Homo sapiens: one gene and its partner. The protein of the gene in region 2 interacts with the protein of the main gene of each other region in a pairwise test. Each region holds a gene or a part of one and is shown on either strand. Other genes may lie near its edges.

Region 1 (3,818 bases), on a different chromosome or scaffold from region 2:
GACCAGCCTGGCCAACATGGTGAAACCCCGTCTCTACTAAAAATACAAAAAATTAGCCAGGCGTGTGGTGCACGCCTGTAATCCCAGCTACTCCGGAGGCTGAGGCAGGAGAATTGCTTGAATCCGGGAGGCGGAGGTTGCAGTGAGCCGAGATCGCGCCACTGCACTCTAGCCTGGGAGGCAGAGCGAGACTCCGTCTCAAAAAAAAAAAAAAAGATTTTCTACTGAAGGGTCCCAACTTAGCAAGCCTGTTTTTTTTTTGTTTGTTTGTTTTTTGTTTTTTTTAGACGGAGTCTCGCTCTGTCTCCAGGCTGGAGTGCAGTGGCATGATCTCGGCTCACTGCAACCTCCGCCTCCTGGATTCAAGCAGTTCTCCTGACTCAACCTCCTGAGTCGCTGGGATTACAGGCATGCACCACCACGCCTGGCTAATTTTGTATTTTTAGTAGAGGCGGGGTTTCACCATGTTGGCCAGGCTGGTCTCGAACTCCTGACCTCAGGTGATCCACCACCTGGGCCTCCCAAAGTGCTGGGATTACAGGCGTGAGCCATCATGCCCAACTTTAGCAGGCCTGTTTTTTCTGCTAGTGTCTTATTCCTTGTGGCTTCCTAGATTCATGAGCTGGTCTGCATTCTAAACAACCCTAGGGAAATAATAGGGCTTAGGAAATCCAGTGTGTGTGTCTTGATGAATTTAGCTGCTTTTTTTTATGATAGTTGAGAGCTAAGACTCTTTATTTATGACCTTAGCTTTGATGATTCAGCAGCAAGTACTGTCTGGTAACTGGGCCAATTCACTGTTCTAAGGCAGTTAATGTGGTGGAGTGAGATGGAGCGGTGACCTCAGCAGAGGGAGCTAGTTTTGGGAGCCTGGCGATGGCCCAGATGTGAAGTGATAGCTCCCTGAATGAGTGAGGAATCACACACTGAGAAGGAAAGAACAGGTGTAGGAAGCATCAGAAGAAAAGATTGATGAGACTTCGTAGCAAATGCTGACAATGGCAGCCAGTTTTCTTTTGTTTTTTTTGTTGTTGTTGTTGTTTTGAAACAGGGTCAGCCGGGCGCGGTGGCTCACGCCTGTAATCCCAGCACTTTGGGAGGCCGAGGCGGGCGGATCACGAGGTCAGGAGATCGAGACCATCCCGGCTAAAACGGTGAAACCCCGTCTCTACTAAAAATACAAAAAATTAGCCAGGCGTAGTGGCGGGCGCCTGTAGTCCCAGCTACTTGGGAGGCTGAGGCAGGAGAATGGCGTGAACCCGGGAGGCGGAGCTTGCAGTGAGCCGAGATCCCGCCACTGCACTCCAGTCTGGGCGACAGAGCGAGACTCCGTCTCAAAAAAAAAAAGAAACAGGGTCTTGCTCTGACACCCAGGCTGGAGTGCAGTGGTGCAATCATGGCTCACTGTAGCCTCGCATCTGCTAGGCTCCCACCTTAGCCTCCTGAGCAGCTGGGACCACAGGCATACACCACCATACCCAGCTATGTTTTTTTTAATTTTTTGTAGAGATGGGTCTTGCTGTGTTTCCCAGACTGGTCTTGAACCCGTGGGCTCAAGCAGTCCTCCCACCTCAGCCTCCCAAAGTACTGGAATTACAGTTGTGAGCCACCTGCCAGCCCCACATTTGCAATTTTTGTGTTAAAAATGTCTTTGTAAGCTCTGTACTTTGTCCAAGTAAAGAGAGACCTTGATTACTAGAGAAGAGTCTTTTTCAAGCTCTTTGGAATCCTTCCTATTGTGCTTAGTCATGTTAAAGAGCTTTATTCTTTCATTCTACAAATAATTATTGAGCACCAAATAATTATCATGCCAGGCACTGTAAGGAGTGAAGAGAGGAAAGAAAATCTCTGGGCTTTTGAGAAACAGGCTGGTGAAGGAATACAGTCAGCGCTGGAGACTGGGGGTTGGACTTGAGGTGCTTGGGCAACTTTCCTCAATTCCCTTCGTTTTTTTCCTTAGTCTGAAGTTGCAGCCGGAGTGAAGAAGAGCGGACCGCTGCCCAGTGCTGAGGTAGAGTGTCGGATCTGTTTTCTCCCCCAGGAGGGAAAACGTCAAGTCACAGCCAGTGCAAGTACACCTCTGACAGAGGCCTGTGCTGACAGCTGGCAGAAAGCTACTGCCGGCTTGCACGTTTTACATGCCAGCCTGCTGGTGTCTTTTAATGCAGAGATTGGAGAATGTTCTCTTTGGACCTCACGACTGCTCCCATGCCCCTCCGGATGGCTATCCAATCATCCCAACCAGTGGTAAAGTCGAGAGCCCTCCTGACTGTCCCGAAGAGGTTGGGACACAGCTACCTTGTCTAAAATTCTGTAGGCTTGGCCGGGCGTGGTGGCTTATGCCTGTAATGCCAGCATATTGGAAGGCTGAGGCGGGTAGATCACCTGAGGTCAGGAGTTTGAGACCAGCCTGGCCAACATGGTGAAACCCCATCTCTACTAAAAATACAAAAATTAGCTGGCATGGTGGTGGGCACCTGTAATCTTAGCTACTTAGGAGGCAGAGGCAGGAGAATCACTTGAACCGAGGAGGCGGAGGTTGCAGTGAGCCGAGATTGTGCCATTGTACTCCAGCCTAGGGGACTACACTAAAACTCCATCTCAAAAAGAAAAAATAAACAAAATTCTGTAGGCTTTGACCTTACTATCTTCTGCTCCTCTAGGATCTGTGCCAGTTCAGAAGCAGGCGAGCCTCTTCCCTGATGAAAAAGAAGATAACTTGCTGGGTACCACATGCCTGATTGCCACAGCTGTCATCACGTTATTTAATGTGAGTAGCACAGAAACTTCACTGAGGTGATGAGGACCCCCTGGGATTTACTGGATTTATTCAGCAGGCTGTCTGCCTGGAGCATTGCATACACTCGGAGACTAATGCTGAGAGCAAAACCCAGCAGTGCTGGGAGAGGCATAGAGACCAATGAGCAAGGTGGCACTGACCACTCTGGAGGAGGTGGTCTGGGGACGTGGATGGGGGATTCTCTTGAGCTCTGTGTGAAGAAATCTTCCAGGAAAGGCTGACGTCCTGTTGTTGAACAGCACCTAGTGGGAGGAGGGCCTGCGCTAAGAGAACATACAAGCAGGGCTTTCCAGACAAGCTGCAGTGGTGGTGGAGGAAAAACGGTTCACCTGGATGCCCAGCAGGGGTGGCATGGGTGTACTGTCCGATGAACTGTAGAATGTGCGCTGCCCATAGCTTCCTGCCTGACCCCAGCACCACATATGTGTGCTTTCAGTGAAGAAGAGAAATGATTTTTTTTTTTTTTGAGACAATCTTGTTCTGCCACCAAGGCTGGAATGCAGTGGCACAATCATGGCTCACTGCAGCCTTGACTTCTGAGGCTCAAACGATCCTCCTGCCTCAGCCTCCTGAGTAGCTGGGATTACAGGCATGAGTCACTGTGCCCAGCTATTTCACTTTTTTTGTTTGTTTGGTTTGGTTTTTTGAGATGGAGTTTCGCTCTTGTTGCACAGGCTGGAGTGCAGTGGCATCATCTCGGCTCACTGCAACCTCCACCTCCCAGGTTCAAGCGATTCTCCTGCCTCAGCTTCCCTAGTAGCTGGGATTGCAGGCGCCCGCCACCATACTTAGCTAATATTTTATATTTTTAATAGAGATGGGGCCACTATGTTGGCCAGGCTGGTCTCGAATGCCTGACCTCAGGCGATCCACCCACCTAAGCCTCCCAAAGTGCTGGGATTACAGGCATGAGCCACCACACCCGGCATTTTTTTTTTTTTTTTTTTTTTTTTTTTTTGTGACAGGATCTCATCCTGTCACCCAGGTGGGAGTGCAGTGGCACCATCCTGGCTCACTG
Region 2 (3,818 bases):
AAAATTTCCTGTTTCCCGCAAATCTTCCCAACTGAGAGTGAATGTTACAAAACACTCTCATCACGATTTCTTACCTTCATCCCATTCTCCCGAATGTCTTTAATCAAAGCCCCTGGGTTCTCAGTAGCCTCGAGATGAAAGGTGTACTGATTGGCTCCTGCTACAGCCATTGGCTTTACCCACTGTTCTGGCTTGGACACCATCATGTGCATGTCTAGAAAGAAAAGACACTTCAAAATATTACTGAAAAATACCTGGCTCATGTTATTGGAAGCCAACCTGTATGTAGTTTTTGCCACTTCTGATAAGAACTCTTTGGCCATCACACAAATCATTATTTAAATAGTTCTAATTCAGTATAGGTAGTTTCCTCTTATTTTGAAGACAAGGATTTATTTAAATTCATTTACAAAAAACACTATTTTCCCACAAAAAGCATACAGTGCTGTATATAAAAAGTTAACATCTAAAAATCAGGAAATCTAGGTCCAGGTCCAGGAAATGCCACTCTAAAAAACTTAAAGAATAAGTCATACTATCCATGCAAACTAGTTTCCTCTAGGAAAAATTAAGTGATCCTTTTCATTTATTCTTTCAATTTATCGAGCTATTGCTGCATCATTAATTATTCTAGGTCCTAGGGTTAGAGCAAAAACATGAAACTCTCCTGTCATAGGGATTACATTCTTAATGCGAGAGTCAAACAATAAACAAAATAAGTAAGTAAAATGCACACTAGGTTGGCAGTTAATATGGCTGGTGTGCCTGGGGAAGGAGATACACCAGTCAGAGGTCAGGGAAGCATGTGGTGAGGAGAAACCCTTCAGCATTCTGCAGGCCACTGGGAAAAACCACCACAGTGAAGTGACAAGATACTATCGACTGAGGAAGCTACGATAGCAATAACCCAGGTGAAAAATGATGGCAGCAATTCGGGATGGATATGTTCTTAAATAAGAGCAAAGAGAGCTGAGGATAGATGAGATGTGGAGGATAAGAGGATCCTCCATGGATAGATAGATGAGAGGAAAATAAAGATGGCATCAAGGATTTTGACCTTATCAACTAGAAGAACGGAACTGCCATTAATTGAGAGGCAAGACTGCAAGAACAAATTTAGGGGGAAGGACATGTTGACTGCAAGAAACCTGATATTCATCCTAATTCTAAAGCTTGATTCATATAAACACATAAGGTGAAAATGGGCATGGCCTTCTTAAAGATCTTGATTTAAAACATAATAGCATTTCATAAGAAGGAGAGGGCAGCTTAAAACAAGCTAAACCAAGAAATAACACTGTGAAGAATCCTGTGTTTGATAGATGGTAGTGAGGAGAGGTTTTAAGTTTTTTATTTTGCTAGAGGAAGCACATTTCTGAAACAGCCAAGCTATATTTAAGAAAAAAATTCTAACATTTCAGAACAATTATGAAATACAATAAAGCCTTGAAAAAAAAAAGTCAGAAAAAGAAAGTATAAAGCTTGACTAATAAAGTCAAGATTAACGTTTGTATTTCTAATCCAGCAAAAGTAATTGTATGAGAACTTTTTTTTTTTTAATAGAGATGAGTTCTCACTGTTTCCCAGGCTGGTCTCGAACTTCTGGCCACAAGTGATCCTCTGACGCTGGCTTCCCGAAGTGCAGGGATTATAGGTATGGGCCACCACACCCGGCCTAAATTAGAACATATTTTAATAGGTAAAACTTTATTCTTAAAAAAATGTATTAAATCTGGTGTTTCTTATTCTTTGCATCATAAACAAGGAAAATTCAAGCCGGTTTAAAATACCTACTCCAGGCCGGGCGCGGTGGCTCACGCCTGTAACCCCAGCACTTTGGGAGGCCAAGGCGGGTGGATCACGAGGTCAGGAGATCGAGACCATCCTGGCTAACACGGTGAAACCCCATCTCTACTAAAAATACAAAAAAATTAGCTGGGCGTGGTGGCGGGCGCCTGTAATCCCAGCTACTCGAGAGGCTGAGGCAGAACAGCGTGAATCCAGGAGGCGGAGCTTGCAGTCAGCCGAGATCGCTCCACTGCACTCCAGCCTGGGCGACAGAGCGAGACTCCATCTCAAAAAAAAAACAAAAAACAAAAAAACCTACTCTATTCATTCCTTAAGTTACCAGACTGCTAGCTATGTCATCCTTACTCAACCTCTAGCATCCAGTAACCACTAGCAACCCTCAATGGAGAAGTTCTATGGTGTTCAGGGAGTCAATGGTTCAGCAAATCTGTGCATAGTTAACATTAGATCAGCAATTCCCAATCATTCTATCATCTATTATAATCATAATCTATTATTCATAAACTTGGTCAACAATATGCTGATTAAAAAGAATCTAAGGTCTATTAAATTCTAAGTTACATTAAAAAAACACTATATATGGCTAGGTGCGGTGGCTCAAGCCTGTAATCCTGGCACTTTGGGAGGCCAAGGCAAGTGGATTGCTTGAGCCCAGGAGTTTACACTCTTAAAAATTATTAAAGACCCCAAGAAACTTCTGTTGATATGGATTATATTTATAGATATTTAATGTATGAGAAATTCAAACTAAGACATTTTAAAGCATGTAATTTTTGGCGGGTTTGGTGGCTCACACCTATAATCTTAGGAGGCTGAGGAGGGAGGATGGCTTGAGCCCAGTTTGAGACCATCCTGGGCAACATAGTAAGACTCCTTCTCAACAACAACAGAATAATTAGCTAGGCATGGTAGTGTGCCCCTGCAGTCCCAGCTACTGGAGGGGAGAGGTGAGGTGGGAGGACTGCTGGAGCCCATCAAGACTGAGGCTTCAGTGAGGTATGAAGGCCACCACTGCACTCTAGCCTGGGTGACAGAGCAAGACTGTCTCAAAAAAAAAAAAAAAAAGGATAACTCTATTACCTATTAATTAAGAGTGGTATTATTTGTTTTACATTTTTGCAAGTTTTCAGTGTCTGGCTTAACAGAAGACACCTATATTCTCACATCTGTTCTGTATCTAATCTGTTGTAATACAGATGTTCTGTAACTTACAATGGGGTTACATCCCAATTAACTCAATCTAAATTGAAAATACTGTTATCTCTAACTGCATTTAATATACCTAACACACCAAACATCATAGCTTAGCCTAGCCTATCTTAAATGTGCTGGGTGGTAATTTTATAAAGGTTAGCTGCAGTGTGCACTCTGTAAACCCTATCAATGAGCTTTTCATTCTTTGTTACATTAAAACCCATTGTTTGTCTTGTATTTTGAATGGGTCTTTTAAGTACTGATTTACTGAGTTACACACATCTTACAAATAGTGACAGATTTCATTCCATAGTACCCCAAAATCACATTTGGTAAAATAACTACAGATCTCATCAGAAAAGCTTGTTAACTGTTGGGACGCTATCAAACCCAGAGTGGTAAGATACACAAGTTTTTTAAAATTCTAATTTTGGGAACAAAAACTGACAAGGTATCTTTCCTTGAAGAGACAGCCTCATTTAGTTAATATTTTTTAAATGTCATTAAAATAGCCAGGTCTGAAAAACCATAGTTGATCTGTCAGTTGTTCTTTCAAACAAACATAGTGTTCTGGAGGAAAGCAGCTAGTTCAGATCACACCTCTATGGTGCAAGTGGTTTTCCTTGAGAAAACCATTATGTTCCAGTATGCAGCAATGCAGCACAAGCACTTTATATGCACTTCCTACTTTGCCACACAAAATATTAAAAAGGCATGTATTCAGGGACCAAGATTTATTAATTTCTACTGCTTCATCAAGGATATTTATTGCAAATGCATGATGATGAAGAATAACTCCTGATACAGTCCCTGCC

The links.
Region 1: the proteins of RPE (region 2) and EXOSC10 interact in a two-hybrid assay, tested with the Homo sapiens proteins (one large-scale study listed by BioGRID and IntAct).

Annotation. Positions count from the first base shown.
Region 1 is NC_000001.11:11,075,794-11,079,611, reverse strand, and holds part of EXOSC10 (exosome complex component 10), read left to right. Parts: intron 1-1,960; coding exon 1,961-2,011; intron 2,012-2,168; coding exon 2,169-2,247; intron 2,248-2,663; coding exon 2,664-2,770; intron 2,771-3,818. UniProt on the Homo sapiens protein: Catalytic component of the RNA exosome complex which has 3'->5' exoribonuclease activity and participates in a multitude of cellular RNA processing and degradation events.
Region 2 is NC_000002.12:210,012,369-210,016,186, reverse strand, and holds part of RPE (ribulose-phosphate 3-epimerase), read right to left. Parts: intron 215-3,818; coding exon 75-214; intron 1-74. UniProt on the Homo sapiens protein: Catalyzes the reversible epimerization of D-ribulose 5-phosphate to D-xylulose 5-phosphate.